Homo sapiens: one gene and its partners. The protein of the gene in region 2 purifies or fractionates together with the protein of the main gene of each other region. This does not show direct contact. Each region holds a gene or a part of one and is shown on either strand. Other genes may lie near its edges. The genes, in order: DCLK1, KIF16B, RAB40B and CMTR1.

Region 1 (7,441 bases), on a different chromosome or scaffold from region 2:
TAGGAGAGAGTTATGTATGTGGCTCCATAGAGCCCTTCAAGAAACTGGAGTACACCAAGAATGTGAACCCCAACTGGTCGGTGAACGTCAAGACCACCTCGGCTTCTCGGGCAGTGTCTTCACTGGCCACTGCCAAAGGAAGCCCTTCAGAGGTGCGAGAGAATAAGGATTTCATTCGGCCCAAGCTGGTCACCATCATCAGAAGTGGCGTGAAGCCACGGAAAGCTGTCAGGATTCTGCTGAACAAGAAAACGGCTCATTCCTTTGAGCAGGTCCTCACCGATATCACCGATGCCATCAAGCTGGACTCGGGAGTGGTGAAACGCCTGTACACGTTGGATGGGAAACAGGTAAGAGACATATTGTGATGTGACTTTGACTTTAAGGCAAGAACCAGGGAGTCGGAGGGTGTACGTGGCTAAAGCATACATTTTGCTCAAGTTGTTAAAGGGCCTGGGTCACTTGATCAACAAATATGTACTTGCTGGCCCTAGAACAGTCAGAAGTTTGAGTTGAGCAGGATTATTCATAGGAATAAAGTAAGAAAAAAATGCATATCTTTGAAGATTAAATAATTACTCAGTGATTTCTACTTGTTCATTTATTATTTGCTTAACATAATGATTCTTTTCTGTCATCTGTTTTCAGTTTTCTCATAGATCTTATAGCCTGAAGAATGAATGACTGAGGTGTGAAAGTAAACTCTGACCAGTAGGGAAAATTCTAACTTATTTCTTTGACCTAAATATTTTATGATTTTAAGTCTTTGTAGTGTTCGCTAGTGAGATTTACTTACATTTTATAGATTTTAAAATATGTATCTAAGAAATGACATATTTCCATCTGGATAGCTTTAAAGGCATATTTCTAGAATAGTACGCATCTTGTATTTTTCAGTGTTAAAATGAAAGGGAGGTTTTTCAGCTACAGAATGAACATCAGTTGACTTGGATGGGTGGTCATTTTAATGTGAGTTGGTCAGATGAACCCAAAGGAAGCATCACCTTTTATTGTCTTGGGTGGACTATTTTTGTACAGGTTTGACAGAACCTTGATGGTGAGTTGAATTAAAAAACATTGATTAGGGCCGGGCACGGTGGCTCACGCCTGTAATCCCAGCACTTTGGGAGGCCGAGGCAGGCGGATCACGAGGTCAGGAGATCGAGACCATCCTGGCTAACAGGGTGAAACCCCGTCTCTACTCAAAATAAAAAAAAAAAATTACCTGGGTGTGGTGGTGGGCGCCTGTAGTCCCAGCTACTCAGGGGGCTGAGGCAGGAGAATGGCGTGAACCCGGGAGGCGGAGCTTGCAGTGAGCCGAGATCGCACCACTGCACTCCAGCCTGGGTGACAGAACAAGATTCCGTCTCAAAAAAAAAAAAAAAAAAAAATTGATTATATGTACAGCATGATTTGCTAGTCATTCAGAGTTTACCAGATTATACTTTTGAGCACACTATCTTTGCTGGAAGTTTAGTTTTTAATGTGGTGCTATCAAAATGCTTTTTTAAAAAATTTTTTTTGAGGGATAATTTGAATGATTTGTATGTATAGTAAATATTAAAATTAAAATGATCCATGAATTAAAAGATTGATCTTATTAAATAGAAGACTCCTCCAAGTTCTTAAAGGCTAGCGCATTCAAACTTTCTGAATTAGAAATAGATGCTAATCCTAGAAAGAGTATTAGTCATGAAAGAATACTTCCCTTAGGGATCCATTCAGATGCTCTAAATTATAAAATTCATTAGGAAAGAAGGAATATGTGCCAGTTGTTCATTTGTATTTACCATCTTTTGCTTGGCTTATAACCCTTGCCCTAAGTAATATGCGGATAAGGATTCTAATGGATGAGATTCTCTAATGAATGAGACTTAGTCTTCTATATTTAAGAGTCTGTAGCCTAAATGTCGTAAATCTATCAATGACCAGAAAGTTCATGCTGGCTTGTGAATTATAGTAGCAATAAGATGGCAAACTTCACCTTTACACATTTTGTAAGCCCTTCACTGGCTCCATTTCTAATGAGTTATTCAAACATCTTGTAGTTCTGAATTTTCATATATTGAATTTTCTCAAGATGGGAGTTCATCTATTTTCATAAATATTTACCTATTCAAATAAATATTTTTATAAAGTGTCTCATTAGAGCAAAGAATACATATGGATAAATGTTCCCTCTCCCTGCTGCACTTCAGAATTTTGGGAGTTCCAAAATGCTACTCTGAATCTAAAAATCGGCTTTAATGACTTTAGCTAAAATTTGCCATCAGCTGATTATTTAATTTTGTTTATTTCAGGAATAAATCCCTACAATAGGTATGATGTTCTCAGTTGTTTTCTTCCTTACTGAATTTGTCTAGAATTAATATTTGATAATGGCTAGTTTACTGTGGTTTACATGTAAATAATCCAAAGTCATGGGACGGAATCCGAGGTTTAATGTCAAAAAACCAGGATTCAAGTCTTGGCTCAGCCGTAGATTCCTTATGTTTTTAGCAAAACACTTAACTGAGCTTCATTATCCTCATCAGTGAAACACAGATAAAATGATTACCTGTGTTTTATAGAGTGCTGTGGGTCAACTATGATGATACATGCAATAGCAATTTTGAACTATAATGATGATAGCTTTATTGAGCATTGTTCAAAGTGCTTTGCATGTATTAGCATGCTTAATCCTCATAACAACTTGCTTATTATCCCCATTTAACAGATTAGAACACTAAGGCACAGAACTCGTTAAAAACATGCACAAGACCACACAGCTACGATTTAAACTGGTCTTGCTCCAGAGCTTGTGCTGGTAACCACTGTACCACTTTAGATTATGTTAAGGCACCAAACTGATGTAAATGTATTGAGAAAGAATTGTCAAGGGAGTAATTTGTCCAAAGAATATCATCTGAAACATTTCTGCTCTGTCCTTTTTTTCCCTGCAGTCATTCTGCTGACTGTTGTACTCAACTGTTGTTTTGTCAAGCGTTCAGTTTGCTGCTGTGGCATTTCCCCTAGTGTTGGCATGTTCTCTTCATAGCAGGATCAGTGAAAAGCTGCAGAGGAATTGGATGATAAAGTGGAAAGAACATAAAGACTTATTCGTTGGGTTCCCAGTGAGAACAAAGATGCTTCCTCATGGACCCCAGGAGTCTTTAGAATCTTTTTGGCTCAAAAGAGAAATCTGTCCCATAAGCAGTTTGTTAGAGTAGAATTTTTGACAACCCTGGCAGAGACTGAGGCTTGATAAGCCTCTGAGAATAAATCAGTTTCCTCCACGCTGTCCTGTGGAATAACGCTTGGCCATAGTGGGGTGGCACCTGCACTGCTACCATCTTGGCCTGCCTGTGGTGGCATCGGGGTCCATATGCTGCCAACAAGATGCCACCCTAAGATTACTTGTCCCACCTTTTTAAAAAATAGTTTAACTGAACCCTCACATCAACTCCATAAACAATATGGGAATTCCAGTGCCCAGTAAAGAATTTCATGTTTTTGGGTTGAGGAAATAGAATTGTTTAAAAAATGAATTGCTTGAGTGCTTTGAGTAAATGCGTAGAGAGGAAGATGGTTTTGTAGATTGCCTTGGGGCAGCCTACAGATGTATCCATGGCATGAAAACTGTTGACGCTGGGATTTTGGACAATGGAACCATGAAAGCCGGAGCCTGCTGTTTAATATCTTACCCAGAGGAGACGGACACCGGAGGGCACAGACCACATGCTGTTCTCACTTGTTTCTACCACCACTCCTTGCTCAGTTGCCTCTCGGGTTTGTGTTAGCCCTAAGCAAAGAGTTCATTGAACAGTACTTTTTTTGATGTTTTTAGACTGAGATAAGGAAATAAACGTTTTGGAAATGCTGCACAATCTAGAAAAGATTTTGCAGGAAGCTGCAATTGGCCAAGATGACCGTTGTGGTTCATAAGCAGCCTATGTGTGAGCAAACCCTTTCTAATGATTTCAACTCCATTCTTTATTCAGGGGCACTGAAGCTTCAGCAAATGGTTGCCCCGACCTTCCTCCTCTTCCTTGCAACTTTCAGGGTGACTGCTCACCAGGTCATCAGTCCTTTTGCTGGCATGGCTGGCAGTTCAAGGAAGCACTTACCATGCCTTAATTTCAGTGATGCATTTTTTTTTTTTTTAAATCTGGGCCTTGGTTAAAGACCTCCAAAGAAGAAAAAGGGACATTTTCTAGCTAACAGTTAAAATCATGTCCCCTGAACCCATGTCCAAGGGGAGGATCTGCAGGATCTTAGAGTCTGAGAGTCTCTTCCTCTTGCCCAAGTCCAAGCTCTGGATGTTGGAACTTTGCTGTGGGTTATTCACTTAACCTGCCAAGCAGTTACTCCCAGAGGCCATTTGGAGTATAACTATTTTTTAAGTGCTTAAAATAAGACTAAAAGTTACCAGATTTGCTACAAAGATACCCTTGCATATCTCCTGACTCCTTTTATGGAAAAGCAAATCTGGCTTTCTTGAGCTGCTAAATCTGTGGTTCTTGAATCCGTCCTTAGAAACATAGAACAGCTAGTGCCTAAGTAGGTGATTTATACTATAAAGAACATAGATAGGGCACTTCCCAATGATCCCCTTCCCACTGAAATACAGCAATGACAAACTGGATTGCTCTTTAAGTAGAAAATAAATGCACATCCCTATCTTATCTACTTTTCAACATCAAAGATCTGTACAACATTGCAGCATGCTTTAGTGAAGAGAAAAAAACCCAGAGATGTTATATTTTTATCTTATAGACATTTCACATAGGCCATGTACTTTATAAAATCTACCACTGCTAGTGAGTCGAGATCGCGCCACTGCACTCCAGCCTGGGCGACAGAGTGAGACCCCGTCTCAAAAAAAAAAAAAAAAAAAAAAAAAATCTACCACTGCTAGCATGCTAGAGTGAGCAAACAATTTATTGTTTTCCCAATATGGAAAACATTAGGAATTACTCAGCTGAAGTATGGGTAGCCATAAACTGATTTCGATGGTAAGCCATGAGAAAGCATCATAACTGCCATTTTGAGGACATCCCAGTAGCTGTTGATAAATTAATCCATCATTACATCTTCTCTGTATCTTTTGATCATGAATCCTCATTGCCTGTTATAAAGCTCAAAAGATGCTTGTAAATGAGTCAATAATTGCCGCCATTTATTTTAGGTGTTTAATATAGGAGTTTACTTGATTACAGGAAATGGTAATGATGATTAATAGGAATCTATTAATCAGATATCACAAAATGGTCTTTATTTTCTTCTTTTTGGCCTTTAATATCTAATTCTAATCTGAAGTAAAAATAATTTGGTCGACTCTTGGGTTTAGAGTGCTTAAGATATGTCTTCCTCTTACAAGTTAAAAAAGTGGTACAAATTATTATTGCATCTGACCTTGGCTATAGGAGTTGATAAGCATAGAAAATGTGGAAACTAGAGGTTTCCAGACAAAATGTAAGAAATTTAGAATCTGATAGGATTTATTTGGAATGGGAAAGGAGGTTTTCTGTAGCTATTAGCAGCAGTGGTATTTTTCCTTTTTTATTAGTAGAACTTTTCTGTGACAGTTCTAATTAACTTCTGCAAGCATATTAAAACCCTTCATTCTTGGTATAAAGAATGTGTACTATTGATTTGCTACACTACCTATGTAGCAAAAGGGAATGTAATACTTTTTAGTTTTGTTTGCGATTGGAGTAAAAAAACAGTTGATACAAGTAATTTAGCTTACACTTTAAAATGTCAAATTAAAATTCTCTACAAAAGCTCAGAGCACATGTTAAACCATCCTCATGATTTATTAGAGCTATGAATTGATGGAAATAGATGATTTCAAAGAAAAAGAAGTTTAAGAATCGTAATGACACTTCACTTACAGAATTAAAGTGTTCAGAATAGAATGTACTATTTTAGGTCACATATCCTTGGTCAATATTTAGGACTCATGAGCTATACCTGTCCTTATGTAGATGTTAGTGCCTCCAAATTGGGAAGATTTAAGTCCTTTTTTTTTTCACTTTGAGCTCCTCTGAGGATGTGATCAATTATGGGTACCTGCAGTGATGTATATTTTAAGGCTTAGATTCATTTTAGCAAAAGTTAGTTTTCTGTAAATTGCATTCTAGCTCGCTGTAAAATGAATTCTAAGTTCTCTTAGTGTTCCACTGCTGTACTGAAGATAGGTTTTCTAAAGCCCTTCCATAGTGTGCTGAGAGCATTTGGGGGACGTTTACAAGTCTACTGGCTTTGTGATTGCCTTCTGGTGGTGAGTTCTCTTGCTTCTATGACAGCTGGAGCCCTGACCCGGCCTGTGAGCCTTTTCTGTCTGGCAGGAGCATGTTGGGATGATGGAAAGAACTTGGACTTTAAAGTCAGCTGGTCAGTCAGTTATCCCTGCAACAAACAAACAAAAAAATTCAGCTGAGCCTGGACTGAGATTTCAGTCTGGAAAATCTAGCTTGTGGTTTTTCATCCAAGCCTGGAAAATTAAGTTAGCCTACCCAACTTACTGATTAGTTAAGTTTAAAATTTCTGTATATTGAATTTACTTATAATGAGGAAATTTGCTTATGTATGCTATAAATTAAGCATAGATATACATGATAACATGACAGAGAGGAAAAACATTAGTTCCATAGAATTATAGATGAGTTCAAATCTGTCCTCTACTCTGGGCATAGTGAAATTTATCCTCCTATTGGAAATAGTTCACACCCTGATAATCCTCAGTTTCATCATCTGTATATTGTGAATAATAATAATGATAATAATGCCTGCTCTATAAGTTGTCATGAGGACTAAATGAAACAATTCACATGGCAAATTTAGCACTGTGATTGGTACCCAATTGTTGGTAGTTGTTATAATGGAAAAGCTGACACTTAACAAATTTTTTTTGGAAAAAAATCATATTTTAATGTGCCAAAGGGACTCACTATTTTAAATTATCCTTTTATAATGACTAATCATATTTTCCTTTGTAAATGTGGCTTTTCACATGGAAATGCTTCATGATATAATAAAAAGAGCATGGAATTCGAAATGAGACACTTAACTAATACAAAGTCAAATCCTGACTTGAATACTCATTAGTAGTGTGACCTCTGGCAAATCAGTTAAACTCTCTGAATCTCAATTTCCTCTTCTTTAAGATGGCATAATAATGCATACCTCATAATATTGGGGTGATAATTAATTGACAAAATATGTATATAAAGGCCTTGGCTTGACACATGGTAGGTCCTCTAAAAATATCAGTCCTTCTCCCTTCTGTTCTCATATTCCAGGCTTTCTTAAAACTGTAAGACCCTTGTAGTTGTATAATACCATGAATGTAGAATTGGTCATTTTGCATAGTTTCCATTGCAACTGATCTGCTGTACCTGAACTACTAACAACTGTATTTTTATCATCCCATTTATTGTCAGTCAGTTGTGAATGC
Region 2 (7,873 bases):
ACCCCAGGTGAGCCTAGAGCCCAGCCACAAAGCCCGGGTGACACCAGCAACCCAAAGAATTGAGAGAAATAATAACCGGTTTTTGTTTTAAGCCTCCACATTTTTGGCCATTATTTTTATGCATCAGTACATAACTGATTTGGATCCCTGAATTCTTACTGACCTTTTGGGCCCTGGATTTACTGCTTTTTTTTTTTTTTGAGATTGGGTCTCACTCTGTCACTCAGGTTGGAGTACAGTGGTGCGATCTTGGCTCACTGCAACCTCCTCCTTCCATGCTCAAGCGATTGTCCCACCTGAGCCTCCTGAGTAGCTGGGACTACAAGCACACGCCACCATGCGTGGCTTTTATTTTTGTTTGTTTTATTTTGTCGTAGAGACAGGGTTTTACCGTGTTGCCCAGGCTGGTCTCAAACTCCTGAGTTCTGGCAATCCATCCTCCTCGGCCTCCCAAAGTGCTGGGATTACAGGCATTAGCCACCGTGCCCGGCCTAGAGCTTCTGTAACTGTTTTTCACTATCAGTTATTTTAAGCTCTCACAGTTTGCGTAGAGGTCATCTATCCCCTGGCTCCTTGCAGGGAGGGTGGCAGCCGACAGCATCTTCACTCCCCGAACGTGCTGGAAATGCCATGTCTCAGGCTTCCCCTCTGACTTGCCCATTAGAAGCTGCAGTTTCACAAGACCGCCAGGTGATTCCTTTAAACATTCAAGTTTGCAAAACACTTTAAAGCAGGCACACTAAAGTCTGAGATGAGCAAACCCCTTATCTTATAATAATCTTCCCTTTCAGAAACTTCCTTCACGCCCCAATAGAAATATTTTCTGCTAAGAAAGTGCCCGTTCCGTATCGTCTGTGATGATCAAGCCTTACTGCTTCCTATTGAAAAGCTCCAGGCATGCTGTTTGTTGTCTAAAGCGTCTGCCGGGCTGCGATGGTCCGTTTTGTGTCAGACAGCAAAGTCGTGGATGGAAAGGGGGCTTATAAACACGTGTAGGTTGTTGGAATTACATTAACGAATGAATGAGCAAAACCTTCTAAACCACCGACCAATGAAACCCCGATACAGAAAATCGCTGTCATGAGTAAGTTAGCACTCCTGAAGAGTTTGAATACTGAACTGGCCAGAGTCTGCGCGCCGACGCCCCCCAGGTGGCCGGAGTGACCCGGAGCAGGCGTGGCTGTCTCTCAGACCCGCGCGTTGGGCCCGAACAGTTTGTCCCCACGCAGCTCCCATATAAGGCGGGCCCCTCCCCTGCCCCAGCCAGCTAGGTCGCCGCGCTGGCTCCCTGGCGGCTTCTCAAACCAACCCGCCGCTACTGCGCATGCTTGGCAAGCTCGCCCGCTCCTTAATATCCTGCTCCGGCTGTTCCTGCCACCCGTTGGTCAAATTCGCACCCAGCTCTGCTCCAGACAGAGGGAAAACCCAGTGATTTCCGGGCTCTAGAAACAAAGGGAGGCTATGATTCCCTGCTGGCCCTAGGGGTCCAGGGAAGGTTATGGAAAGATAATTCTTTGTGTAAGCGGGTTGCGTACTTGCAGACATCATCCCACTTGATGCATTCACCACTCTATGCCGTTGTTCCTGATTTGCAGATGAGACAAGAAGCCTCAGAGGCGCCCAGTAATTCAGAATTACAGGCTGACAAGGCTAGTGTTGGAGCTAGGACTTAAAAACAGGAGTTCCGCCTCCATTCCTTGCGTCTCCCATTATAGCTTGGCTTCCTGGAATGGCTGCTCCTGTGGCTCGCAGGTGGGCTTCTGGGTGTGCGCAAACGATTTCATGCATGCTCGATTCACTGAATGAATGAATGCATTTACCTTCTACACAGGAAGGGAGGTGGAGCTCACTTCTACCAGAGGCCCTAAGCCTTAAGATACCAGTTGTCGGCCTGGCGCGGTGGCTCACGCCTGTAATCCCAGCATTCTGGGAGGCCAAGGCGGGCGGATCATTTGAGGTCAGGAGTTCGAGACCAACCTGGCCAACATGGTGAAACCCCGTCTCTACTAAAAATACAAAAATCAGCCGGGCGTGGTGGCACGCCCAGCTATTCGGGAGGCTGAGGCAGGAGAATCTCTTGAACCCGGGAGGCGGACGTTGCAGTGAGCCGAGATCGCAGCATTACACTCCAGCCTGGGTGACCGAGCGAGACCCTGTCTCAAAAAAAAAAAAAAAAAAAAAAAAATACCAGTTGTGTTCGCCTTTAACTCCCTTATGATTAAAACTAAAAATTACTAAAGTGTACAAAAGTGCAAAACAAGTCTAAATAAGGTTTGATTCTAGCCAATATAATGACATTCCCGCACACATTTAAAACATCCAACACCCTATTAATTTTCGTTTATCGGTATCCCGAGTTAAGGGGTCCAAAACATACGGTCGGACCTCCTTAGGGTAGCAGAGAAGGCCCTAGCGGAGTTTGCCACCAACAAGCTGTGATCATCTCTGCGCCTCAGTTTGTTCGTGTGTAAAATGGATACGTTAACTCATGTTTGGCTGGGTGAAGCCAGGTTCTTGTTAAGGGCTGAAAAACTGGCTTTGGTCACCTGACCCCAGGACTGTGATCCTTGCCGCTGGCTTTAAATTGCTGCGATCCTCTTCTCTCCAGTTGTTCAGGCCATGAGGGTGGGTTCTAGTTTTCCTGAAACCATCCGCTCCGGGTCGCCCCCATAACCTCTGCGCCAAGGTCCACAACGTGGCCTTTCCAGACTTGCAGATCCCGGAGGCTGCTTCCAGGCCCCGCGGCCCCGCCCCTCTGCACCGCCCGGCCGCCGCCAAACCGTGGCGCATGGATCACGCGGGCCGGAGCCGTTCTGGGCATGCTCAGTGGCCTGGCAGGTGGGGCTGCCGCGGAACTCCAGGTCCGGCCGGGAGCAGAGGGGCGGGGGCGAGAGGGAAGTGGGCGGGAGCCGCGATCTGAGTAGCCAGCGTCGCCGGCGACCGCGGAGTTCTGGGCTAGTGGGACCCCGCGCGGGCTGGTTCGGGATGAGCGATGGCATCGGTCAAGGTGGCCGTGAGGGTCCGGCCCATGAATCGCAGGTGAGTGGGGCCGCCCGCGCCCCGCCCCCTCGTCGCGCCCCCACCCAGAGGAAGCCTGTTTCCAGCTCCCCCAAAGCCAGCCTGGACTTAAAAGTGTCACCGGCTGGTCCCTGGCCCACCGGGCCCAGGCTGTGGCCTCTGGGGGCCTGGAGGACTTCGTGCACTGCTGTCCCGTTCACATTGCCCTGGAGAGGACCCTGGTGGTAAAGGAGAAGATTCTATTAACTCTCTCCATCGTATTAACTTGAGATGTTCTTGTTCCCCCTTTAAAAAAGCATCAAGGGAACGTTACCATGAAGATGTAAAATAGTTGGGGGGAAGGTGAGAGTGCTGAGGGGGGGCACCACGAACTGTCAGGTGAACCCCTCATTTCTACCAACTCAGAAGTTCTCTTAACAATTAACCATGCTACTTTTTAATCTTTCAGTTAGAGATGATTTTGATTCCCTGAATGTCTAATCGATAACTTAGCAGTTCCTAACTTCATGTTAGAGAGTGGATGGGAAAACTTTGACAAAGTCCTGACTCCTAGAAAAAAGTCAGGGACGCTTTACACGTGTTTGAAATACTCTGATATTAAGAGAGAGGAAGAGTGTTACACACAAAATTTAATCTTGTTATATATTTCTACGAAGTAATGCTTTTTCAGAATCCTTCTCTTCATTCACTGAAAAATAGCCTGTGCTCCCTTTTCAATGACCTCTTTTTAATCCGTTTAGAAAGTTTCTTTGGAAAAGTTACTTTTTAAATTGGTTTGACTTCAAAGAATGAGGTAGAAATGGGATGTGTCCTCCAAGGTGACAGGCAAGGTTCACACAGAGCCATTTGATTTTATTGACTTCTCTACCAAGTTGGTGGATATTTGACTTACCATAGGGCCTTTTTGCTTTTGTCATATCAACTTGTGGAGGTTAATGTTTGGTAGTTCTGATGCCTGATTGGGGCAGCCGAAGGCCATAAAATCAAAAGATTTCCAGAACCTTATTTGACTCATCTAAATCTGTTTCTTCTCTTGGCAAGTAGGGAATCATTATTTTGGTTTGTAATCATTAAAACCCAGTGTTTTCAGAATCTGCTTTTTGTGACTTTTGAGTTATTTCTAAAGCTGTTTAGAGTAAGAGTTTGACTTTTTTGCTCTAAGGGAATATTTTTGTTTCTGTGTACATTCCATCATAGAAGATAAACTTTAGAACGATTTTTCTTTATTATGGATTTTCATGTGTATAGAAGTTCTTTTTCTTTTTTGGAAAAAGGTGAACACATGCTAGAAAATTGTATTGTGTAACTTTAGAAAGTATTTGTTAGGCTGGGCGCGGTGGCTCATGCCTGGGAGCCACTTTGGGAGGCCGAGGCGGGCGGATCACAAGGTCAAGAGATGGAGACCATCCTGGCTAACACGGTGAAACCCCTTCTCTACTAAAACTACAAAAAATTAGCCGGGCGTGGTGGTGGACGCCTGTAGTCCCAGCTACTCGTGAGGTTGAGGCAGGAGAATGGTGTGAACCCAGGAGGCAGAGCTGGCAGTGAGCCGACACCGTGCCTCTGCACTCCAGCATCAGTGACAGAGCGAGACTCCCTCTCAAAAAAAAAAAAAAAAGTATTTGTTAAGCACCTACCAAACACATAGCATTCCTCAGGGTGCTGTCTGGGATACAAGGGGAATGAGACCTGGTGAGCCATGGTGAGAGAGGGATTATGTACTGGCATGAATCTTGTGAAGTATTGGGCCTGCTGGGACAGGAACTGTGAGTTCAGTGCCTTGCCAGTGTAGGCCTGGAGCCCAGGTACATGGAGGGATGGCAGGAAATAAGTCCAGAGGCCATGGGCTTTGGGGAGGCAGATTCGCGTGATGTTATTTATATTCTCAGTAGAGAACTCTGGTGGTGTCAAGATTGAGGTAAGAGGCAGGTGATTAGCAGTTTGAGCCAGAGATGAAATTGGAAGGCAGGATAGTTACAGGAAGACCACTCACTGGCAGAATTGGCAGGATTTGGCAGCTCACTGGATGGGAAGAAGGGGGAAGAATGCGAGTGTAGAGTCATTAACTGAGGTTTGATGCTGAAGGAGGTGAACAGGTTTGAGGAAGGTGGACAATGAAGTTGGTATGTTCTCTCTTGGATGTGGAGAGTTACATGAGATGTATTAAGTGTCAAGTACAAGCACAGAGCAAGTGTTTCACGCATGTTGACCTTGTTCATTATCTGAAGTGTGGGAAGGACATCCATCCCTCTGCTAGAGATGTTCAGCAGAAAGCTGAAAATGTGGGTTTAGGTCTCAGGTGATTTGAGGATCGACATTTGGAAATCTTTTGCACATAAACCACAATTTAAGGATGTTACGTGAGAAGAAAAGGGAGCCAGGGATTGGACATTGGGATATGCCCCTCTTTAGGATTTCAGGGAGAAGATTGGCTTGCAGTCCGTAAAGGAGAACCAGCACAGCAAATGGTCATGGCAGGAAAGGGAGAAGAGCATCCTGAAGGAGGTGGTGGGGGTTAGTGTCAAATATTGCCAGGATGATGAGAATAAGATGGTGTCCTTGGTCTTGAAGACAAGGCTAGTTGATAACCTTCCCAACAGTACTTTTAAGGAGAGTCAATGATTCAGAAGTTGGCAGTGAGTAGAAAGAGATATATAAATTGGCAACTGAATATACTTGACCTAATTTATAAGGAAAGACATGCATACTATAATAGTGATAAAATGCCATTTTTTTACCAGTGAGATTGATAAATATTAACTGAGCACCAATTGCTGGTACAGGAGTGATGAAACAGACGCCTCTGCATTGATCACGGAAGCATAAGGGATCAAAACATCTGAAACTTTCATATTGGGAAATTTGACAGTAGCTGTCAAGATTAGAAATCTGTATACTTAAGCAGAAAATGCTTCCCTTAAAAAATTGGAAATCTATAAACTTTTTGATTTGACCATTTCATTTCTACTTTTTCTAATTTCTAATTTTTATTATATGGATTATATTGCTGCCTACAAAGATATATGTGTAAAGATGATGATTTTTGCATCATCATTGATAACAAAAAATCATAAGTGACCTTAATATACAAAATTGGGAAATTTGTTAAGTTATAGCGTAAATCATTTGGTGGATTATTATGCAAGTCTTAAAAAGAGGGTGTTGATCTTAAAAGAGTTCCAAGGTAGAGGATTGAGAAAAGCAAGATATCCACAGTGGAGTAAAGTTGTGTGTTTGTGTGTGCTAACAAATGTACACACACACACACACACACACACAGATTCATCTATATGTAATGGTTTGTAAGAAACCTAACACTGATACCTCTAAAGAGGAGGACTGATGATGAATCCATTAGGCAAAGATGAAAGGCTTTTTTTTTACTGTTTGTTTTTACTTTCCTCATGCGTAGTTTTATAATTAATACTTAGAATTAATTATTAACCCAGCAGTGCTTATTTAGGTAATTTTAAAAAGTCACCTACAAAATTCATTGGCACTGGAGAAGTTTCAGTTGGTTGTGAGGAGGATTGAAGGAAGTTGTTAATGTTTTTAATGTTTATTTTTAGAGTAGTGGAGCCTCAGGCAAAGGGAAAGCAACCTACAGAAAAACAAGTCCCAGAGTTATTGGAAAGTAAGGACTGCTGGTGGTGGAGTATTGAGTTTGACTGAGTTTCTAAACTAGGGGCCTTTGCAGTAATCAGTCAGCCTTGTAAGGAATATGAGTGCTTGATTCAGGCCAAGATGTGATGAGTTTATTTTTATTGCCTTATGGCTTTCAATTATGTGGCAGTAATACTCATTTCAAATGCGGAAGTGATTCTGTTACGTAGGCAAAATGGTAGCCACCTTTATTGAGACTTGACTCTGTGCCAGACTCTCTGGTCCTAGCTCCAGGTACAAAATCCAGTTTAATCTTTGCAGCCATCTTGGCAGGTAGAGACATTATTGTTATGCCATTTTACAGATTGGGAGACAGAGTTTCTTAGTGTGTTTGGACTGCTCTAACAAAATACTGTAAACTGGGTGGCTTATAAACAACAAGCATTTACTTCTCGTAGTTCTGAAGCTTGGGATATCCAAGATCAAGGTGCCAGCAGATAGGCTGTCTGGCTGTCTTCTGAGAGCCAGGTCCTCATACATGGTAGGTTCTTGCTGTGTACTCACGTGGCAGGAGCAAACAGACTCCCTTGGGCCTGTTTTATAAGGGTACTAATCCCATTCACAAGGACCTCATGACCTAATCACCTCCCAAAGGCCCTACCTCTTAATACTATCTCAGTGAGGGGTTAGGTTTCAATATTTGAATTTTAGGGGGAGACAAACATTCAGATCATAGCACATAGTTAACTTGCTCAAAGTCAAAGTCAGTTTCTTAAGACAGTCACAGCTATGCCTTTTTTTTTTTTTTTTTTTTTTTTTTTTTTTTTGAGACAGGGTCTTACCCTGTTGTCTAGGCTAGAGTGCAGTGGCGCAGAGTCGTGGCTCACTGAAGCCTCAACCTCCTGGTGGGCTCAGGTGATCTCCCTGCCTCAGGCTCCTGAGTAGCTGGGACTATTGGTGCACACCACCACACTTGGCTAATTTTTAAAATTATTTGTAGAGACGGGGTCTCCCTGTGTCGCCCAGGCTGGTCTCAAACTCCTGGGCTCAAGTGATCCTCCCACCTTGGCCTCCCAGAATGCTGGGATTACAGGTGTGATCCACGAAAGAGCTGCAGTTGGGTGTGAAAAACACTGTTGTGGGTTCAAGTGAGATAACGCATGTGGATAAAGCTCTCCACACAGAGCCTGGCATTCAGCAGGGGCTCCCTGAAGAGTGCTTGTTGTCATTACTATTATTTTTACAGTTTAAT
Region 3 (7,441 bases), on a different chromosome or scaffold from region 2:
TCAAAGCTGGAGTTATCTCCGCATTCGAAAATAGATTCCCAAGTGTATTCGTTCATTGCCTCGTGCCTGCCAAGGGAAAATAAATATTTCCAAAATTCTCTTTGAGGATTGCTATTATGGAGCAAATATGTATGTTCTTTTTTAATTTATTGTTTGTGTTTCACGCTCAGTGTGTTCATTGCTGACGGCTGCAGGACTTGGCACATGATGGTGCCTTCCCGAGAGCTTAGTAGGGTTTTAAAGGACTGTGAAGAGATTTTTGGTCGTCGCTCAAAGCGTAATTTCACAGGGCCTGAAGCTCCCGCGCTGGGGCTAGTAGAACTATCTAGTTGGAAGGCTCCAGAAAAGTGTTTTTGTCTCCTTTTACATTTTTTTTTAGAGACAGAGTCTCACTCTGTCACCCAGGCTGGAGTGCAGTGGCACGATCATAGTTGACTGCAGTCTCCAACTCCCGGGTTCAAGAGATCCTTCCACCTCAGCCTCCTGAGAAGCTGGGACGACAGGTGTGCACCACCATGATTGGCCAATTTTTTTATTTTTTATTTTTATTTTTTTGAGACAGAGTTTCGCTCTTGTTGCCCAGGCTGGAGTGAAATGGTGTGATCTCGGCTCACCACAACCTCCACCTCCCAGGTTCAAGCAATTCTCCTGCCTCAGCCTCCTGAGTAGCTGGGATTACAGGCACCCGCCACCACGCCCGGCTAATTTCGTATTTTTAGCAGAGACAAGGTTTCTCCATGTTGGTCAGGCTGCTCTCGAACTCCTGACCTCAGGTGATCCACCCCGCTCGGCCTCCCAAAGTGCTGGGATTACAGGCGTGAGCCACCGCGCCCAGGCCCTAATTTTTAAATTTTTTGTAGAGATGAGGTCTCACCATGTTGCCCAGGCTGGTTTCGAATTCCTGGGCTCAAGCGATCCTCTCACCTTAACCTCCCAAAGAACTGGGATTACAGGCGTGAGCCACCGTGCCTGGCTATTTTCCTTTCTGTAAAAGGACTGTTTCCTTGATACTCACTTGGTCACCTGGGAAAACCACAGCAGTGTGGTTTTGGTCTGACAGCAATGGAGGCTACGCCGCGTGCCCCACTGTGGTGAGGTCAAGCTCCTGGTGCTAAGATGCTGATGGTAGCAGTGGCCCATCTAGAGTGGCTGCTGCCAAGATGCCGGCTGCAGCGGAGGCATGGCTGGGCCTCTCGATCCACGGATCAGGCAGCAGCTCCGCCTTCCCTGCGTGCCGCGGCCCGCTGCCCTGGGGCAGCTCTAGACGCGGGCGTCTCTGTGCTCTTGGAGGCCTGGGAAGGCCACCCCTGCCCCCTGCAGGCTTAGAAGTGCCTGCTCCAAATGCCTGGCCTCTCCTCACTCCCCACGCCCGCTCCAGTCGTGGAGCACAGTTGGGGCTGAGCCCAGGTGCTGCTGCAGACCATCCGGGTGGGTCCACACTTGGGGCAGCACGGACACACCAGCCCTTGCCACCTCAGCCCCCTCGGGACTGGGCGCTGTTGAACATGGGAGGGAAGCTGAGGGAGGGCTGAGGGTGGCTCAGTGCTGGCCTGCAGGCGCCCCTTGGCATGAACAAGCTGGGTGCCATGAACAGCAGTGGGAGGCAGACAGACTTCTGGGTGGAAGGGGGCAGGTCCCTGGTGAAGCCACACCTTGAAGCTTCAAGGGGGCCTGGGGCCCGGGCTGCCAGTCCTGCAGACTGGAAGGAGGACTCGGTGCTTTTGTCAGAGGGGGGATGTGCATGCTGGTTGGGGTGGGCTGCCTGTGGACCAATCAGCGTGCACTTCCCCACCCTGAAGACCACAAAAACCCCAGACTCAGAGCAACGCGGACGTCGGGATGACCAGCTGCGGAGAGCTACCCTGTCTGCTGAGAGCTGAACACTTGTCAGGACGACCTGCCTGCAGAGAGAAGCCACCCACTGTGGGTCTCCCCTGAGCTGTTCTAACACTCAGTAAAGCTCCTCCTCGTCTCGCTCACCCTCCACTTGTCTGGGTACCTCATTCTTCCTGGATGCAGGACAATAATTCAGCAGCCACAGAGGTTTCCAGCCGGAAGAGCAACATCCCAAAGGCCCCATCAGTGCCCCGTCAGCGCCCATGCCAAGAAGAGAGAGACAGACGGTGCACTCAGCGTGCCTGCTGGGCTCGGTGGCAAACGTTTGGCCAGCTCAGGAAAGCCTCGTACTGGGTGGGTCAGGGGACTGCTTGGCCGCTCTGTCTGAGCCTCATCACGGGGCAGGTGGCGTCTGCAAAGCGGGTGCTTCGGGCGTTCTCAGTGCTGCTGTATCTTTTGTCCTCTGAATCACTCTCCTCTGACGGGGGGAGTTTGCTCTGGTGTTGCTTGGTCTAATCTACCTGGTGGCGTGATGGGCAGTCTCTGTGGACAGAGTGTGGAGTTTAGCAGGAGACAGAGGAGGATGCGGGAAGCCTGGACTCCATGTCTCTGGGGCTCTGGTGGCACCACAGAAAGAGCCTCTGGAGTCCAGGAAGGGGGCAGGGCCCGGAGGAGGAAGCAGAGGGCAGGGGACAGGCTGGACACAGCAGCTGTGGGAGGGAGGGGTGCTCGGGATCTCATGGAAGGCGCTGCACAGGTGTGCTCAGATCAGGCAGGTGTGCCATGCACGTGCTCATGGCTGCATCAGTGGAAAGTGGAGGACAGAGGCCCAGAGCTGCTGCAACGCCCAGGCCTGCCTGAAGATGTGGGCGACCAGCTGTCCAAGCCAAGTGGGAGGCCACCGGTGGCACCGCCACTGCACACCTCGCTCTGCCCGACAGGAGACCAGGAACTCGGCACACTGCCTCCTGGGATGCAGGGGGGCTTGTGGCCAAGTCCAAGGGTTCTAGACCCTTCGAGGGGGCAGAAGCTGCTTGAGAACCGTGGCCTCCGCAGCCTCGCATTTTTAGAGGAGCCTGTTTCTGGGCACTCACTGGCTACATCGTGGGCTTCTCTGGAAGGAGAGCTGCAGAGGCCGTGTGCTCCACGACGGTCTCCAGGGTGAGGTCTGGTGCGAGCCTCGGCGCTGCTTCTCCCCTCGGCCTCTCAGCGGCGCGCTTCCCTTTAGAATTCTGATTCCCTATTCAGCCATACTTGTCAAAGCACTCAACATCCGATCACAGCCGAGAGTGAGGCCAGGGCTTGTCTCTTGTAGGTTTAGTGCTTTGAGAGATACTGTCAAGTAAATCCTATACATGAAATAAATCAAGCAAATCCCACAAAGGCTGGTCATGTCTTGTTACTAAGCAGTTTGGGTTCCTGTGATTGTACGTGTCATTGTACCTGGTTTTAGGAAGGCAGTGCTCCTACCCGGCATTCTCCAGCCCCTTAACTCAAACCCTCTCTTTCCATGTTCTCAATGACAGACCTGGTGCTCATCCGGAAGCGCTAGAAGTGAACACAGGAGATGTTTCCTAAAGAAGCAGAACACTGGTGTCTGGGGGGTGATGGGGGCGGGGAAACATATTTTTCCCTTTAAAAATATTTATTGGCCGGGAGCAGCAGCTCATGCCTGTAATCCCAGCACTTTGGGAGGCCGAGACAAGTGGATCACCTGAAGTCAGGAGTTCAAGACCAGCCTGACTGATATGATGAAACCCCATCTCTACTAAAAATACAAAAATTAGCTGGACGTGGCGGTGTATGCCTGTAATTCCAGCTACTCAGGAGGCTGAGGCAGGAGAATCACTTGAACTCAGGAGGCCGAGGTTGCAGTGAGCCAAGATTGCACCACTGCACTCCAGCCTGGGCAACAAGAGCGAAATTCCATCTCAAAAAAAAAAAATGTATTGTGGCCAGGCATGGTGGTTCATGCCTGTAATCCCAGCACTTTGGGAGGCTGAAGTGGGAGGATCACTTGAGTCCAGGAGGTTGACCAGCCTGGGCAACACAGCAATGCCCTGTCAATTAGCCAGGTGCGGTGGCAGGTGTGGTGGCAGGTGCGGTGGCAGGTGTGGTGGCAGGTGCGGTGGCAGGTGCGGTGGCAGGTGTGGTGGCAGGTGCAGTGGTGTGCCTATGAGCCCAGGAGGTAGAGGCTGCAGTCAGCTGTGATTGTGCTACTGTACTAGAGCCTGGGCGAGGGGGAGACCCTGTCTCAAAAAAGATTTTTTTTAAGTGTAGTTTTTTTTTTTTTTTTTTTTTTTTGTTGTTGTTCTTGTTGTTTGTTTTGATACAGAGTCTCCCTCTGTCGCCCAGGCTGGAGCACAGTGGCACAATCTCAGTTCACTGCAACCTCCGCCTCCCGGGTTCAAGCAATTCTCCTGCCTCAGCCTCCCTACTAGCTAGGATTCCAGGAGCCCGCCACCACACCCGGCTAATTTTTGAATTTTTAGTAGAGATGGGGTTTCATCATATTGGTCAGGCTGGTCTTGAATTCCTGACCTCAAGTGATCCACCCGCCTCAGCCTCCCAAAGTGCTGGGATGACAGGCGTCAGCCACCGCATCCAGCCCTTAATTGTAGCTTTTTATTTTAGAAGAAGTGTTCCAGCATGGTGGCTTATGCCTGTAATGCCAGCACTTTGGGAGGCTGAGCCGGGCAGATTGTGTGAACTTAGGCGTTTGAGACCAGCCTGGGAAACATAGCGAAACCCCGTCTCTACAAAAAAATACAAAAATTATCTGGCCCTAGTGGCACATGCCCGTAGTCCCGGCTACTCAGGGGACTGAGGTGGGAGGATCACTTGAGCCTGGGCTGTGGAGGCTGCAGTGAGCTGTGATCACGCCACTGCACTCCAGCCAGGGCGACAGAGAGAAACTCTGTCTCAAAAAAAAAAAAGAAGAAGAAAGGCATTCTCGGGTTTTTTTTTTGTTTGTTTGTTTTTAACTTGAAAAAATAGAAATGTGGAAAGAAGGTTCCAGCCTACCTGTAATCTGCACCCCAGAGGTGGCTGGGACGGGTGTGCAGTCCCGTGTCCCTGCACATGCGTGGTTCACATGCACATGTACACAGCTGAGAGCGGGCATCCCACGCAGCGTCACGTCTGTCTTTACTGTACTTTCCTAGTGTGATACTGGGGGACGCAGTCTCAGTGTCTGCAGAGCCGCTGCCTTAGCCCCGTTCCCTTGGAAACAGAGCTGAGTCGGAGCTCTCAGGCCTGCAGGCTTGGGGAGGAGGTGGGGAGGGAAGGACCAGCCCAGACGGGGGCACACCCAGCGGCCACAGCCCCGCGGCAAACCCACCGGCCTCCAGGTCACATGTAGGCCCTGCAGTGCCTGTCGGGGAGCCCCCTGGGCCAGGGTGATGCGAGCCTGACCCCCACAGAGGCCAAGGCGGCTGAGGACAGGAGGGGCCCGGGTGCGGGAGGGCGCAGGCAGGGCCCCTGTGAGCTTGGGCAGACACAGGGAGGGGGTCCCATCCGCCTGCCTTGTAAACCTGGAAGTTGCACTGATGAGAAACCCTTTTCTTCCCTGAACGTGAGACTTCCAGCGTCCTGTTAGCTGCAGCCTCAGGCCTAAGCCGTCTCTAACCCTTCCGCAGGCATCGACTACAAGACGACCACCATCCTGCTGGACGGGCGGCGGGTGAAGCTGCAGCTCTGGTGAGTCTGGAGGAGGTGCGAGCGTCCCGCACCCCCAGGGAGTAACCCCCCTGGCTGGCATAGCACCCCCTGTCAGCACAGTGCCCCGGGGAGCACCCATCCCCCACCACCATCGGCACAGCGCCCCCGGGAACACCCTCCCACCACCACCGTCGGCACAGCACCCCGGGGAGCACCACCAGCCCCACCACCATCAGCACAGCACCCCGGGGAGCACCCTCCCCCCACCACCATCGGCCCAGCACCCCAGGGAGCAAGCTCCCCCCACCACCATCTGCCCAGCACCCCAGGGAGCACCCTTCCCCCACCACCGTCGGCACAGCGCCCCCGGGGAACACCCTCCCACCACCACCATCGGCACAGCACCCCAGGGAGCACCCTCCCCCCACCAACATCGGCACAGCACCCCGGGGAGCACCCTCCCCCCACCACCGTCGGCACAGCACCCCCGGGAACACCCTTCCCCCACCACCGTTGGCACAGCGCCCCCGGGAACACCCTCCCACCACCACCGTCGGCACAGCGCCCCGGGGAGCACCCCCAGCCCCAGCTGCACCAGGGCTTCTCTGAAGGAGGTGGTGGTCCGGTTGTCTGGGCCCCCGTCATCCAGAGTAGGGGACCCCAGAACGGACATAGCGCTGTGGCTGGGAATCGGCTTTTGGGATCAGAACCTGTGGCCTGGTGTCTGTGGGAAGATGCCAAGAGGGGACCGATGCAGCGTGGTTGAGGCAGCCCGGGGCTCCTGGGTCCCCCACGCCTGGCTCAGTGATGCCACTGAGCACCCGGCAGGGAGCTCGGAGCGTCCTGGTGCCAGCGGGGCTGTGGTCGGGCCTGCGGGTGGAGGACCCAGACGTGGGGAGGTGAGGACTTGCTGGCCAGCCTGGGGCTGCTGGCTCTGCTCTCTCAGCTGTGAGAACCCCAGCTCCTCACCTTGGGGCAAGCCCGGGGCACCTCTCCCTCCCCCAGCACCCCCACCTTGGGGCCAGCTTGGAACACCTCTCCCTCCACCCGCTCTTGGCTTGGGATGGGGGGAGCTCCTGCGGTTCCAGCTCTGGGGCGGTGGGGATGGGGGGCTCCTGCGGTGCCTCATCCTGGGGCTGCCTCCCTCTTGGGCATCCCTCCTGCACTGCTGCCACTCCTGGGTGACCCTCGCCTGAGCCTCCTGGCCCTTCCTGCCTGCTGGGCCACCCCCGAGCCACGTGTGCCTCCAGCAGCTGGGACCCCCTTCTCTTACCTGTCCCCTTCCTACGCCTGCCCCGTCTAGTAGTGGCCAGTCCTGGGGAGCCTGTCTCCACAGTGTCCCCAAGCGCCCCGACCCTTCCTGCTGCACAGCTTCAGGCCTCCCGCCCAGTCTGCTCTCAGGTCCCCACTCCCCCGGGGCCATGCCCTCGCTGGGCTGGCGTTGGGGTTGCCGTCAGCCCCTGTCCTGCTCCCCACCCTCCGCCAGCTGGGCCTTTGCTGCCTCCTCCTGGCCCTGAGCCCTGCAGGTCCAGGACCTTGTTCTCAAGTCTCTCCCTCCCTCCCCGAGACCACTCCTTCCTGAGGGGCCAAGGCCACCCAAAGGCCGCACTCGGCCCCACGCCTGCCCCTGAGCTCAGTGCCTTCCTAAAGATCTGCTTGCATCAGGGCTGGCGCGTGCCCTCTCCCAGCTCCACCCCGGGTCTGGCTGCTCACCTTAGCGAACGCCTCCCTGACCCCAGCTGCCCAGTGGGCCGAACAGTCACCCTCACACTTTTCTCCCTCTCACCTCAGGAGTGAGATCCCAGGGGGCTTCTGCCAAGCTCAGAATCCCCCCAGGCCCCAGCAGGACCCTGAGGCTGCTCTCCTGTGGTGCCGGTGCCAGCTCTGTCCACACTGTCGTCTGAGCAAGGTCACACTCCCACCGTGGACCCCGGAGTGTGGACCC
Region 4 (7,441 bases), on a different chromosome or scaffold from region 2:
AAGGCTTCACCTCTCTGAGTTGGCAGGACGGCTGGTAATAGGCTTGAAGAGACAAACTCGTTCAAAGCAGCAGTACAGCAGGTAGACAAGCCCCACACTAAACGGTGTGAACAGGTCAAAGGTTTTACAGATGAAGTGGCCTCCTAGATTAGAGAGAAAACACCAAAAGCAGCCAATGGGTCTATTCCAAGAGATGGGTGAAGTAGTCTTGGGAGTAAATATGACAAAGTCAAGGAAACCAGCACCTGGGTCTGTTAAAACTCAGAGACAATTTAAGGGGGAGAACCATCTTTGGAGGGGACTTTGAGGATTCCACAGCCCTTTCTTCCCTAAATTACTCATTTAGCTACCTGTCCTCTAATATAAGCAGATTTTTTTAACTTCCCCACCAACCCCTTGTACATGTTCTTGTCCAATAGGGCCTCTAAGTGGGTCCTGGGGTGAGGAGACAGCTGAGGAAGTGTCACCTGTCCGGACAATGGACAGCGCCATGAGGAACTGACACAGAAGCAGCTGCTTGCTGAGGATCTCCTGCAGGTTCTCCTGCCCCTCCACCGAGAAACCCTGAAATGAGAGCACAAGGAATGGGGTGGGAAAGAGAAAAGAGAAGGACTAAGAATAACATCACTACCTCATCTTCATCGAGAGTTCTTGAAGTGTTTTCACTGATCACCATCTGATTGATGAAGAAGCAGCTCAGTGTTGAGTTATTTTAGAAGGTCACTGGGCTTGTTAGATGGAGTAAGCACAGGACCCAGGCCTACTACTGGACCAGCTCCACTTTCCTGCTCTGTCATTCTCAGGGGATGGAACCAAGCCTGCTTTTCCAAGGAGATGGTTTAGAATGTGTTTTAACTCATGGGAATCCAGAGAAGAGTAAGGCAGAACAGAGGCAAAATATTGGCTAGTCAGAGGTCAACCACAACATAGGAAACAGAATGCTCTGGTGAGTCCTAACAAGACCAGGGAGTGAGTACAGTGAGAACACTCTGCTTCGGCTTCCCACTCTGGTGAAGGAGAAAAGTTAACTTTCCTAGTCACAGTAATCTCTCTCTGTTGACTCAGGTTTTACTTACAATACCCCCTTTCCTGTCCTAAGACCACGGTGCCTCTTGTATCCAGCTGGCAGACTCTCTGGCCAGGGTATTTACTGAAAGAATGTGTGATGCTATTTCTAGAGTGGTCTCCCTCCTTGTGAGATCCCAGCAGGAGACAGAGTCAGGCTTACATAAAAGTAAAGGAGGCCAGGGGACATCAGGTGGCACAGTGTTGTTAAATGGGTACAGTTTCTGTTTTGCAAAATGAAAACTTCTGAAAATCTGTTGCACAACAGTGTGAATAGACTTAACACTACTGTTAACACTTAAAAATGATTAAGATGATCAAATTTGTGTTTTTTACAATAAAATAAAGAAAAAAGGACGCTGCCCTCTATTAAACACGCCCCAGGTGTCCCTGACTCAGTTCTACAGAAGTGATAGCTAAAGGACTCAGGATAAGAAATGTTTAGGAGTGTCTTCCAGACTTAAAGATGCTTCTCAAAATGCATGCCTGATTATGGGGTCAATTAAAAAAAAAAAAAGCCCAGGTCACCCCTTTACACTGCTGAAGTGCTGAAGCAGAAAGCCCTTGAGCTTCCAACTCTATAGCTGCCGCACAGCAACAGCTGCCTCATTAGCGCTATCAGACTCCCACATCTGCTCAGCCAGAGCAGCCCCTCCCTCACAGCCAGCCCCAAGCCTGTCATCTGTTGTTCCCTGCTGTGCACAGTGCTTTGGTGAGCCTAGGCATCTTTGGATATCATGCTGACATCCTGCCCACCTTCCTTCACTAGCCACACAGCTACTGCTTAAGAGGCCACCCAAAGAGTCCCAGAGGCTTTTCTCAACTCTAGCTATATGATCCTGGAGCAGCTGCCAAATTGTCTGTCCTTCCTCTAGAGTAAGTGGTGGCTCACTCCAGAAAGGAATGCCTGCATTGTCAGATTACTGGGTGAGAGCTTCTGCTGAACAAAGCTGCAATGGGCTTCCCTCTGTGCCTCAAGCAGCTGCCCATAGACAAGGCCTCTTGAACATTCACTTTAACCCAGCCCTGACAAGAGCCTCCTGTGGATTCCTCTGTGCTGCCGTCTTTGGTTAGGTGGCCATCTGTCAGCCTATGAGAGGCTTACAGGTGACCATGTATAGACAGCCTCCACCAGGAGCAACACCAAGATCACCCTGCTCCAGGCAAAGGTATCCACAACATCAGTCTCTACACAATTATCATTTAAAAAATGTATAAAAAGAATAAAAATGCATTCTCTACAATCTGAACTGTGAAATACCATCTTTGGGAGCAGCTAAAGAACCAGATAAAACAAACAATTCTCAAACCTCTAAAATAACAAATCCTTAATGCATCAGTCTATGGAAAAAAGGTAACCTACCCCATCAGCCATCAGAAAATGGACACCCTTGCGATCTGTGTTATCCAGGACAAAATTCCGAAAAGCAGAGATGTTCTCTGGGCGGGTGATATCTCCATCTCCATCAATCCCACCCTCACCTGTCAGAATACAAGAGTCATAGTGAGTTCATCTGCCCTATACATGTCAGGAGCTGGGACACGAGTGCTCTGGGTCAGTGAAGACGGGCATCAGGTGTCTCAAGAACTAGGGCCCATCCTGCAAGGCTCCCTTACAGTGATGGACCAGGAGGAACAACAGTACTCTGCTATAATGAAACACAGTCCCAAAGGAGTTGACCAGTCAAAAGTCATCAACTCGTGGAACTTTCTCTTTAAGACCCAAGTTGTGTTTAAGGCACCTACATTTAGGCATCAATTTTGTAATAAGGACTGTTCAGAAAGGACTTAGGATTTGCTGTCAAATTACAATCAACATAGAACAGAGGGACTGCTGTGGGTTGCTGAGCTGTCTGCAACCCAGTGCATTCTGCACCTGGCACAGAGGGCGAGAGATGGGCATTGGGTTTATATTTGTTAAAAACCCTGCCAGTTCTCAGCCAGAGATCAGGCAGTTTCATTATCTCCTGCCACCACAAAAGCAGAGTGTTCCTGAAAGGAGGAATTAATAGGGCCTTGATGAGAATCTGCTGAGGGAGTGTTTGACCTGTATTCTGCAGGCCCAGGGTAAAAAGGGATAGTCCAGAGGGAACCAAGATTCTGACATGAACTGTGAAGCCCAGGGTAAGAGACCTAGGAAAGAAAATATGGCATGTGGATAACAACTGCTTCTGACCTGAAGTCCCCATAGAGGGGCTGTCCCTCATACCTCCTAGTACCCTCCTCAATGTCCCTACCATAGTAGGGTTCGAAGAGTTCACTGGAAGCAGAGTAGAAGTCCTCCAGCTTGAAGTCATTAGGGCCCTTCAAAGTCATTCCAAAGCCCTTTGCATGCCACTTCTTCCTCCACAGCACATACTCTGAGAAGCCACCTGGGCCTGCGCAGACATCAGCAAAGTACAGAAGCTCAGCTTCCCGGTCCTTCACCAGTGGCTTCTGCAAAGGCAAGTGGAGGACAGGAGAGGAAGGAAAACAAGACAGCTCAATGGGCAACAGGAAGGAGAATGCAGGGAGAGTAAAATAAGCCTTTCGGCAAGTACAATCCAGAGCTCCCACCAGAGCTACAGCACCCAGGAAATGTATCTTCTGGTGATTAACACCCTTTAGTGTTGCCTCACCCACCCTCAAAATACCCACAATGCCTATCACATCACCAGGCCTAGCTCAGACTCCTCATAAAAACATCTTCATGGAGCCAGGCGCGGTGGCTCAAGCCTGTAATCCCAGCACTTTGGGAGGCCAGAGAGGCAGATAGCCTGAGGTCAGGGGTTTGAGACCAGCCTGGCCAACGTGGTAAAACCCTGTCTCTACTAAAAATACAAAAAATTAGCCAGGTGTGGTGGCGCACACCTGTAAACCCAGCTACTCGGGAGGCTGAGGCATGAGAATTGCTTGAACCCGGGAGGCAGAGGTTGCAGTGAGCTGAGATCGCGCCACTGCACTTGAGCCTGGGCGACAGACCGAGACCCTGTCTCAACAAAAACAACAAAAAACATTTATGGGTATCTGACTACATTTTTTATCTCTCAGAGTGTTTTCCTCACCATATCCTGCCTTTCAAGAGTCCTACTGAACAGAATATGCCCCACATATACAGATAGGGAAAAAGAGGCACCAAGATACAAAGTCACAAAGTAATCTGTTCACAGCCAGTCTGCAACAAAGCTAAATCAGGGTCCAGTTGGCCTAGCCACTAGACTCAGGTCTTCCTGTCCAACCAAAGGCTGGGGGGCTCTAACACCCTCTCCCAGCCACAGGAACCTTCCTTTTCCCATCATAGCCTCTGTCTTCCTTTCTCCCCTTCCTCCTTGGCTCTCCCAACCACCTTTTAAAAAATCCCAAATAACTTTTTATTTTGGAATAATTTTTGATTTACAGAAAAGTTGCCAAGATAGTACCCCTCACCCAGTTTCCAATTTTGTTAACACCTTACACCATGGTATGTTTGGCAAAACTAAGAAACCAACATTTGTACCTTACTATTAACTAAACTCTAGACTTCATTTAGATTTTCACTAATGTTCTTTTTCTGTTTGGGATCCAATCCAAGACACCACACTGCATTTGGTCTCTCTCCTTTTTGCACTCCCTTTTTTCTTCTCCTGCCCAGCGCTGGGTGTGGGGTTGGGGCAGGGCACAGTCAGAAGCTGACAAGACAGAGAGGGAAGGAAATACTGTTGTGCAGCAACAGCAGCTTCCAGGCAACGCTCGGAGCACCCAGCCAACTCAGGACTGACTAATCATCATTTGAATTTTGGCATAATTACATTTGTGGCCCCTTGAGTAGCTTTCGCTCTCTCTCCCCAGGTTTTTTTGTTTTTTTTTTTTTTGGCAACGAGGTCTCACTCAGCCCATGCTGGAGTACAGTGGTACAATAATAGCTTACTGAAACCTTGAACTCCTGAGCTCAGGCAATCCTCTTTCTTCAACCTCCTGAGTAGCTGGGACCCCTGACACACACCACCACGCTCAACAAATTTTTTTTTTTTTTTAGAGACAGGATCTTGGTGTATTGCCCAGGCTGGCCTCAAACTCCTGGACTGAAGCAATCCTCCCACTTCAGCCTCCCACAGTGTTGGAATTACAAGTGTAAGTCACCATGCCCAGCCTAGCTTTATCTCTTAACCTCACATTTATGCTGAACCCAGTACTGGACCATATTGTATGTTTATACTTCTCTTACACAAATGCTAGGTATGCTCTTACCCACACCTGAGCCCTAGACAGTGAAATTCTACCCACCCTCCACAGCAGACAGGATGAACCATTTGCACTGGTGACAACAACAAAAGGTTGAGTTCTACAAGTGAGTAACTGCAAAAGACTATAGTTGGCCTCAGACCATGATGAACACTCAAGCCAGAAGGGGCTTAGGGACCTCAGTCTTCCCTCTCTACAGGTTCGGCATGGCTGAGTGCTGGTCTAGAGTTCTGCAGCTGCTAGATAACGATCAGAAAGCTTTAGGGGAAACAGTCCCAAGAAAGAAATAGACATACTAATGTTTACAACCCAATCACTTCTAGGTGAGGTGGGCCTTTCTTCTGATGATAGCTATCTGGCTTTATCAAAATAGTGAAAAAGTCTCTGGAGAAAGTGACTTTAGCTAAAAATAAATGTCATCATCCCGTGACAAGCCCACTCCAGGCATGCTGGGTCTTAATCGTTCTTTCCCCACTTCCTTACTAAGCCGCCCCAGCATTCTTTGTTCCTGAGCCATCGATTATTCATCTTTTTGGATTATATTCATTTGCACACAAAAAAGACCTAATGGTATTTGCCAAGAACATTATGTAGCATCTTCGAGTCAGCATGGTGGTAATGTGGCAGGGGTCACAAGTTTTAGCCCTACACATACTGCAAAGAGGGAAAAGCAAGGTTCCTTGCCACTGGCCGTGCCCTCTAAGTGAACCACTGGTCCAAAGGAAGACTGGGAGAAGGATGCGGAATGATCGATGCGAACACCTCACCCCTGCAAAGGGGGCATGAATATGACCTCGTTCTGTGATTTCAAGATGTATGGCCCTTATAGGTCATGGCCAGGAAGTCTTTTCACAGGAAGGACAGCTGGCGTTCTTAGCTCTGCTACTTACTGACTGTGCAGTTAAGGACAAGCACACAATTTAAGTCATTAAGCTTGAGCTTGCTCAGTTATAAATTGGGACTGATACAGGTATTTCTCCAGGCCGTTGTAGGACTAAATAAAGTATCCTATATTGAAGAGCTTTACAAACTGTAAAGTATTAAACAATTAATGCAAGATGATATTGTACTCAATCAGATCAACTTCCTCAGAGTCAAAACTCTTATCCTTTTCCATGTTTTTCTCTTTCCAGTGGCGAGTACAGCAGCACTGCACACTCAATGGAAATTAGACAAATGATGTCTAATTTCCTCAGCTAGGACTGAAACTTAGAGATCTACCTTCAGTTGTCTTCTGCAATGCTTCACAGACAATGTATTCTTGTCTCAACAACATTCCCAGGCACTCGAACCCCTGACATAATGTAACAGTTTATAATATGCTTCCATATACTCCAAGGATCTAAATTTCCCTCCGTCCTTTGTCTCTTCCAGTTCTTGCTTATAGCTTCTTTATTTTCCTCCCCTTGCCCCCTTTCTCCTTTACCATAACCTGCAGCACCACAGACCTACTTAAAAACTTCAGAGTTGGCTGGGCGCGGTAGCTCACGCGTGCAATCCCAACACTTTGGGAGGCCAAGGCAGGCGGATCACCTTAGGTCGGGAGTTTAATACCAGCCTGACGTGGAGAAACCCCGTCTCCACTAAAAATACAAAATTAGCCAGACATGGTGGCACATGCCTGTAATCCCAGTACTTGGGAGGCTGAGGCAGGAGAATCACGTGAACCCGAGAGGCGGAGGTTGAGGTGAGCTGAGATCGCGCCATCGCACTCCAGCCTGGGCAACAACAGCGAAACTCCGTCTCGAAAAAAAAAAAAAACTTCAGTCTGCTCTCTCCATCACTTGTCATCACCTCTTAACATCTTCACATTCCAAGCTTCAAATTCTCCTGCTCTTAGTCTATAATTTGCCTGATCCAAGAGCCATTATGACCCTAGCAAACATGGGTGTGTGCCTGGGCCTTCAGCCACTCCCTCTTCTGCTGGGGACTGCTCTAGTGTCTCTGCTGGCCTGAAAACCACACCAAGCCTGTGGGGCTTGGCTGTAACTCTGGTCCTCAGGGGAAAACGGAAATGAAAAGAGAAAATAAAACACCAGGGGCTCGAGAGAAATCACTTTTTTTATAGTGAAGCATAGAGAAACATCTCTGAAAGGGCAATTCTCCGTGGCCACTAACAATCAATTCAGGTCAAGAAGCTGCCTGAAGCATTACAAACACGGCTGCCTTTTCCTAT

Evidence for each region.
Region 1: the proteins of KIF16B (region 2) and DCLK1 purify together in Homo sapiens (affinity purification with western blotting; one study listed by BioGRID). This does not show direct contact.
Region 3: the proteins of KIF16B (region 2) and RAB40B purify together in Homo sapiens (affinity purification with western blotting, with the first as the bait; one study listed by BioGRID). This does not show direct contact.
Region 4: the proteins of KIF16B (region 2) and CMTR1 purify together in Homo sapiens (affinity purification with mass spectrometry; one large-scale study listed by BioGRID and IntAct). This does not show direct contact.

What each region holds. Positions count from the first base shown.
Region 1 is NC_000013.11:36,104,778-36,112,218, reverse strand, and holds part of DCLK1 (serine/threonine-protein kinase DCLK1), read left to right. Parts: intron 1-3; coding exon 4-350; intron 351-7,441.
Region 2 is NC_000020.11:16,568,395-16,576,267, reverse strand, and holds the start of KIF16B (kinesin-like protein KIF16B), read left to right. Parts: upstream 1-2,819; 5' UTR 2,820-2,992; coding exon 2,993-3,039; intron 3,040-7,873. UniProt on the Homo sapiens protein: Plus end-directed microtubule-dependent motor protein involved in endosome transport and receptor recycling and degradation.
Region 3 is NC_000017.11:82,662,590-82,670,030, reverse strand, and holds part of RAB40B (ras-related protein Rab-40B), read left to right. Parts: intron 1-1,723; exon of another isoform or gene 1,724-1,798; intron 1,799-1,830; exon of another isoform or gene 1,831-2,099; coding exon of another isoform or gene 2,100-2,190; intron 2,191-5,474; coding exon 5,475-5,535; intron 5,536-7,287; coding exon of another isoform or gene 7,288-7,441. UniProt on the Homo sapiens protein: RAB40B small GTPase acts as substrate-recognition components of the ECS(RAB40B) E3 ubiquitin ligase complex which mediates the ubiquitination of target proteins.
Region 4 is NC_000006.12:37,454,672-37,462,112, reverse strand, and holds part of CMTR1 (cap-specific mRNA (nucleoside-2'-O-)-methyltransferase 1), read right to left. Parts: intron 3,502-7,441; coding exon 3,303-3,501; intron 2,548-3,302; coding exon 2,429-2,547; intron 565-2,428; coding exon 468-564; intron 144-467; coding exon 11-143; intron 1-10. UniProt on the Homo sapiens protein: S-adenosyl-L-methionine-dependent methyltransferase that mediates mRNA cap1 2'-O-ribose methylation to the 5'-cap structure of mRNAs.